Linked DNA regions of Homo sapiens. The protein of the gene in region 1 purifies or fractionates together with the protein of each later gene. This does not show direct contact. Each region holds a gene or a part of one and is shown on either strand. Other genes may lie near its edges. The genes, in order: CCDC150 and CFAP161.

Evidence for each region.
Region 2: the proteins of CCDC150 (region 1) and CFAP161 purify together in Homo sapiens (affinity purification with mass spectrometry, with the first as the bait; one large-scale study listed by BioGRID). This does not show direct contact.

What each region holds. Positions count from the first base shown.
Region 1 is NC_000002.12:196,729,883-196,733,500, reverse strand, and holds the end of CCDC150 (coiled-coil domain-containing protein 150), read right to left. Parts: intron 3,545-3,618; coding exon 3,383-3,544; intron 2,643-3,382; coding exon 2,556-2,642; intron 1,469-2,555; coding exon 1,349-1,468; intron 1,056-1,348; coding exon 939-1,055; 3' UTR 700-938; downstream 1-699.
Region 2 is NC_000015.10:81,132,701-81,136,624, forward strand, and holds the start of CFAP161 (cilia- and flagella-associated protein 161), read left to right. Parts: upstream 1-1,569; 5' UTR 1,570-1,629; coding exon 1,630-1,698; intron 1,699-2,569; coding exon 2,570-2,659; intron 2,660-3,815; coding exon 3,816-3,924. UniProt on the Homo sapiens protein: Microtubule inner protein (MIP) part of the dynein-decorated doublet microtubules (DMTs) in cilia axoneme, which is required for motile cilia beating.

The DNA.
Region 1 (3,618 bases):
TCTGCTCTGCTCAAGGAGGACTATGCCTGAACAACACTTCTCCCTTACTATATAGTAAGTGATAAATTCAGCTGTGTTTTTTTCTATCAGATATTGAGTAGTAGGCTCATCAACCTTTGACAGTCTTATAATTGATATTATTTCCAATTTCATGATTGCTTACTTGATTTAGGTCCTGATAATATCAGCAGCAGCTATGATTACTTGAGTATTAATTAAGTCAGGTCTTATGCCAGCCATTTACATATGTTAAATCTGGATTACCTAATCCACCACTCAACATCTGAAATAAAAAGATGAAGATGAGCTTATTGCTTAACTATAGTAAGGAAGAGCTATGTTGGTCAGGCATAGTCTCCCTGAGAAGAACAGACTGCTGCATTCTATAACTTTTTTAATGACCAAGGAAGCTGTAAATATAATCTCTGAAATGCCTTATTTGAGAATAGAGATATTAGTCTTTAAAAGATATGCTGGTAATTACCCAACATAGAAGTGCATAAATTTACAAGACAGTAGAGGAGTCTTTACCATTTTTCACACAATTCTATTACCAGGGATTATCTACTGCATGTTAGAGTGGCACATTTCATTGAAACAAAATATATCGTTTAGTAGCAATATCATTTAGAACTTGCTAAAAGCCTTTTCATAAAATATACTTATTAGAAAAACAGACAAGAATTATGCAACACCATCTCCTATCATACAACAAATTAACACAAATTTATTGGGTGGAAAATGTGAAAAGGGACAAAAAAAGGGGTAGTTTTGTACTGATATAAGAGTTCATAAAGTGATAAACTCAGGTCCAAAATCTTCAGCCCACATCAAAGACTTCATGTTCTTATGACTCTAGAAACAGGCCAGCCCCGGCTGCTGGGCTCTTGGAATCATGGAGTGTAGCTACACATAAAGAAGCTCCCTTGTCAAGGACATCACTTCCTCTGTACCTCAGAATGATACTTCTTGGGCATGGGCCTAAGATTCTGTTTTCTCTCCCATCGATGCAGAACAGATTGGTTGGACATGACATCATGTTTTACATCTTGGTCCTGTTGGAAAGAAAACACACCTAACACTGACTGTTCAGAGCTAACTGCAGCAATCTGCACCTGTTTTGCCTCTACACATGTCATCTATTCATGAAGACAAGTGATTCTAATCTAAAAAGTTTGTGACAGGTGGAACTTTGTAAAAAAAAGAAATTAATTGGTTTCCTAGCATTAGTCTAAAGAAACTAAAGATTAAAAGAGAGAGTATCGAGATGATGAGAGAACTTCGGTAATTAGAAATCTGAGAAGCAACAAGTAGAAAATTGCTTAAGACATCCATGTCTTAATCTTACCTTTTCCTGCCACCTGTCTTCCCCAGAAGGCCTCTGCAACCGGTTTTTTGTCAGCTCAAGTTGTAGACCATCAAACCTGTGCTTAAACCAGCGATGAGCTTCTTCCAGATTAGCTGTTATCTGAACATATAAATATCACCATTAAAAGACACAAAGAAAGAGTTACAAGTTTTTTTGTGTATTAGTTGCAGAGATTTTTTACTTAGAAATTAAAAGACCCAAATTCTGACTGCTTGTTCTTCACAACCTATTTGCATAATATACTTAACATCCTATACATGCGAGTAATTTCTGAGTGAGGGGTTAAAGAATGCATGCAGACTTGCTGCTTTTCATGCATTTGTTAATGTTTCTTGGATGTGAAGTAATGTAAGAGAGGACCCAGGAGAAAATTAAGAATGAAGGTAAAAGATGGCTTTGAAAATGAAAAAAATGCACAAAAGACTCTTAAGAATGTAGTAGTTCATGGGCCAGGTGTGGTGGTTCACACCTGGAATCACAGCACTTTGGGAGGCCAAGGCTGGTGGATCACTTGAGTCCAGGAGTTTGAGACCAGCCTGGCAACACAGTGGAACCTCATCTCTACCAAAAATTAGCTGGGCATGGTGCACCACCATGCCCAGCTACTTGGCTACTTGGGAGGCTCAAGTGGGAGGATCATTTGAGCCTGGGAGGCGGAGATTGCAGTGAGCCAAGATTATGCCATGCACTCCAGCCTGGTGACAGAGTGAGACCCTGTCTTGGAAAAAAAAAAAAAAAAAGTATGATTTGAAATACCCCCCAAAAGGCTAATTTAAGTTTAGAATAGAGAAAGAAAATTCACAATTAGTTAAATAGGGTCTACTTTACTTTTTTAGTTATTGATTGATTGAACAAAGAGCATCCACTTTCAGTAGGGTCATGTCAAATAATAATGCATTAAAATCCACACACATGCTGGTCTTTCCTTATATTTAATAGGGAGATTTGGACTTCAGGTTTAATATTTTAGCATTCTGTTATATATCATCTGTCATCTGGACACAGACTCTTAATCTAAAAATCACTTCTTCTCTACAATAGAGACTACACTTAGGAAGTTACTCGTTCTTCCCTGTTGCATTCCTGACAACTACGTTAATGAAGGATTTCACATTGACTTGGGTTGCTTCAGGGTTGCTGTGTTGAAGGAAACGTCTAAGTCTTTATGTCCGTGGGTCTGGCTCACCTGTTCTGATTCCACACTGGCTTCTTTCAGCGTATTCTCTGTTGCCTCTTTACATTTCTTCAGGTGTCTGACAGTTTCTTCCAATTCCTGAAAATGTGATACAAAGATTTTTATAAACTTCCAACATACCATAAGAAACCAAATGCTTCACTGTTATAATAAATGGGCAACTAAATATGAAAATAGGATGGAGTGCCTTCTAACTTCAGGTGCTACTGACATATGAGATAAAAACTGTTATTTTCAGCTTAACCTATAGTCTGCATATCTACATATGTGGATATGATTACACATTTTGATTTTTTATTTATGGAGTCTGTTGAGGACAGTGATTAATATCTCTTTTCAGAACTGGAGAGATACTTCTCATGACAAACCCTACTGAAAGACAAGAGCTCAGTGATCTCTTGAAGTCCCTTTTCAGTGATAAGACGTTATGCTTTTTATTCATTTAGGAATACCTAAGAGTCCTGTAATAGCAACAGGTGTATCTGTGCTAGAAGAAACGAGGTGTACAAAGTTCCTGAAAGGCTATGAAATTCAGTTCAGAAGTCTTACTTAGTAACTGATACTTTGCATATGTAAGCTCTAGCTGTTCTTTAAAAATTGACATTACTTTTATTAAACTGAAAATGGAGAACATTTGCCATATTCAAACTACAGCCTTCTTCCTAGATACTATTATTCTAAGGACTTAGCTAAGATAAACAATTTGTAAATGTGTGTTGTCTTCTGTAGACTCTAGAAAGTCTAGGTGCAAAACTACTGGGCTTTGGCACATGTCATTTGCTGACCATCTTTAAGATGAATCTTAGGAAACCTTTTACCTGGCACCGATTCTCTAGCTCCTGCCTTATTTTCCGCTCTGCTTCTAGGTGCAGCTCTTGCTGTTTATTCCGCACTGAGGCATCATATTGGCTCTTAGCCAACATCTGCATCTCTTTCTGCAGGTTAGTCATTTCACACACAAATCTCTGGATACTCAAAGACTGGAAGGATACAAAGACAGAGACATTTGGTGAACACCCTCCAAGTTTGAGATTTTGCATGAAAGGTAAACACA
Region 2 (3,924 bases), on another chromosome or scaffold:
AACCTTGTTAAAAATGTAGAGACTAGAGCTGCTTTGTTTTATTCTTGATTTTATGAGGAATATGAAAAATACTTAAAAGGAAAAACAAACAAACATGACTTTGGAGTCGGAAAGTTTGGACTGAGTCCTTTCTTTGAGCAACTTTTAGCAGTTTGAATTTAGACTGCTAGCTTCTTTGAGTCTCAGTTTCTGAATTTATCAAATGCAGTTAGTGGTATACTATCTGATCTAACTGCTTTGTCCTATGTGTCCTTCAGAAGTATCCTCGAATGTGGTGATATATTGACAGAGCTGGTGGATTCATCAGAATGTGGGAATGTTCCTATTTTTATTCTACACTTCAGCCTGCCAGTTCAAATCCTTCCCAGTTCAGCTCCAAAGCAGCCCCTCTCCCATCACTCAAAGGCCATCCAATTCCCATTCTCACAGTTCCTCAAGACAGAAAGGATCCTTCAACTCCATGGCCCTTCATCAGCATATATATATATATATATATATATATATATATATATATATATATATATGTATTTTTTTTTAAATTGGAGATGGGGTCTCACTATGTTGCCCAGGCTGGTCTAGAACTCCTGGGCTCAAGTGATCCTCCTGCCTCGGCTTCCCAAAGTGCTGGATTATAGGCTTGAGCCACCACGCCAGCCCATCAGCACATCTTTAATTGCATTTTTCCACAGTCTTCCTTAAGTAATTCGTTTTCATGAACTATCTTTTCTTTTAGACTGGGTTTGCTGAAGGGAGCGGAGGCTCCTGTCTTCCATTTCAGTCATGTCTTACTAGACACTAAATAGAGGTAAATTACTGAATGCATTCAATCTGCATCAAGCCTCCGGTAGTCCTACAGTAACTGGTATCCCTCCCCTCCCCAGAAAATAATATTTTGTTTTATTAATGCTGGCTACAGCAGAGTCTGGTTTTCTTAAGAGTTCCTGCAAATCACAGGTTCGTCCTTTAACTTTGAGACCCAGGGAAGGAGGGAGCAAGGGAGGGAGGGAGGGAGGATGCTGTCAAGTCCGCAAAAATATGGACAACCTCAGAAACCTATAAACAGAAATATACTAACATGGTATATTTCTTACTTTTAAGGCCCTGAAATTATTAATTTTCCTTTCTTCTTTCTATGCGATTTTGGTTTCCAAATGTGTACATTGAGCAGGTATTGTTTTATGATTAGGGCGAAATTGCTGCTGCTGCTGCTGCTGCTGCTGCTGCTGATTACAAAAAATAGGCTGCAAGCAAGCCGTGCTTCCATTTAAAAGCTCCTCTTTGTTGCCTCGACAAGCAAGGGGTACTCGATAGCACTTTTCGGTTAGATTCTAATAGAAAGAAAGCTTTAAATTTCTCTCTCGGAAGCACTTTGTCAGCCAGGGTTTTCCCTCTCGCCCACCCTGCAGTTAAGGAAATCTAAGAGGTGGAAGTGGGGCGGGCTGGAGGGCCACAGACAGCCGCTGACCCAGACGCCCCATCTCCCGCCCCAGGGCGAGGGTGCGCGCTGTCGCTTATTGGCCAGCAGGGTCCCAGACCTTGACCAATCGCCTGGGGCCGGGTCGTCATGGCGACGCGCCACGCTAACGCATGGTGTCGGAGGGAGGCCCACTTGCTGAACAGCAGGGAGCGATGGCGCAGAACGTGTATGGTCCGGGAGTCCGGATAGGCAACTGGAATGAGGATGTCTACCTGGAGGAGGTACGCAGGGTGTGGCCAGGCGCAGACCCGCAGCTCAGGAACTCCCAGACCCTGCTCTAAGTTCAGTCTCCTACTTTGAGCGCCTCAAGCCTCCTCTCTCTCCCAGCATACAGCGAATACCTCTAAAATCCCCCACTTCTCTAAACTCCCAAGGAATCTCACCTGCCGAACTGCAAACCCAGGTCTCACTGACCTCTACTCCGAGCACCCTGACTTTTCTTTCTCTGGGTCCCTTGGCCTCCCAAAGTCAGATGCCTTGACTCTCAAGCCCCTGGCCTGTGTCTCCCGCTTAGTCTAGAGCCCCACTAAGTCCCCCGTATTCCTTAGAGTCTTACAGTCTCAGGCTGCGGGCCAGGTGAGGACACAGGTTCTAGGTAGAAATAATATCCCTCCCCACTCCAACCCTGCCACGCTTGCCCTCTTAAATGACCCTGAGTATTCCTTTTATTGACGTTGTACTCACTCACTGCCTCGTATTCTCCCAAGGGTGGTCTTAACAAGGCTTTGAGCCATTCGTATACGGGTCAGATTGGGGAGGGGTGAACTTTCTAGTGTCAGTCATCATACGGTCAAGGGAAACCCCAGCAGGGGAGACATGGCCTCCAAATGTCATTTAGGATGGTATCTGGCTGGAGTAATTACTGGTGATGTTTCTTTTTCTTTGTTTTGCCTTTCTCATTTTTCTAAACATTCTATAATGTAGTAAAAATATTAAAGTAGTGCTAAAAACGTTCCATCATTCCAATTATGCTCACATCTCTTTTTTTGTACTCAAATTTTGCTTTTTCAACTTGGAAGAGCTTCTGACCTAAAAGTTATTAATACTAACATCTATATTATTCAGGGCTACTTTTGTTGATTTTCTGTTTAGGAGCTCATGAAAGACTTCTTAGAGAAGAGAGACAAGGGGAAACTTCTCATACAGAGAAGTAGAAGACTAAAACAGAATCTCTTGAGACCGGTAACTTTTTTTTTTTTTATTACACTTTAAGTTTTAGGGTACATGTGCACAACGTGCAGGTTTGTTACATATGTATACATATGCTATGTTGGTGTGCTGCACCCATTAACTCGTCATTTAACATTAGGTATATCTCCTAATGCTATCCCTCTCCCCTCCCCCCACCCCACAACAGGCCCCAGTGTGCGATGTTCCCCTTCCTGTGTCCATGTGTTCTCCATTGTTCAATTCCCACCTATGAGTGAGAATATGCGGTGTTTGGTTTTCTGTCCCTGCGATAGTTTGCTCAGAATGATGGTTTCCAGCTTCATCCATGTCCCTACAAAGGACATGAACTCATCATTTTTTATGGCTGCATAGTATTCCATGGTGTATATGTGCCACATTTTCTTAATCCAGTCTATCGTTGTTGGACATTTAGGTTGGTTCCAAGTCTTTGCTATTGTGAATAGTGCCGCAGTTGGTGGGACTGTAAACTAGTTCAACCATTGTGGAAGTCAGTGTGGCAATTCCTCAGGGATCTAGAACTAGAAATACCATTTGACCCAGACATCCCATTACTGGGTATATACCCAAAGGATTATAAAACATGCTGCTATAAAGACACATGCACACGTATGTTTATTGAGACCGGTAACTTTAAATTCAGACATTGTTTTCAAAATTCTGTTGAACTTGGTGTGAGTATATGTTAAGCAAGAAAAAAATTTCATAACTGAGTTACCATTTGGAAAATAACAGTTTTTAAAAACAATTTGCAATGTTTTAAATTCTTCTAAGATTTTAGAAACATAAACAGTCTGCCCTAAATCATGTTTACCTGCATTTTACAAATAAAGAAATAAATGAGTTAATATGTAAATAAGTAAAATGCCCCTTAGTTGGTAATCGACAAATTTTTCAATGAATGTTGAATTTCTAGGATAATGAGTAAATCCATGTGATTTTAACCAGCTTTATTCGACTTCATTTGGAATTATTGGGAGCTTTGCCTTGGCAAAGGGGAAGGGAAAGGAAGAAGGAACTAAGGGTTCGAGGGAATCCAAGTGAAATCCTGAATGAAATGGGTACTAGTCCGAGAAGGAAGAAAATTGCCTTGGCAGTAACTGTTGAGGAATTGCATGGTTTATGTAATAAACTACTATCAAAATTGTAGATGCAACTTTCCGTAACTGAAGATGGCTATATTCATTACGGTGACAAAGTGATGCTTGTGAATCCTGATGATCCTGACACAGAAGCTGATGTGTTTCTGCGTGGGGACC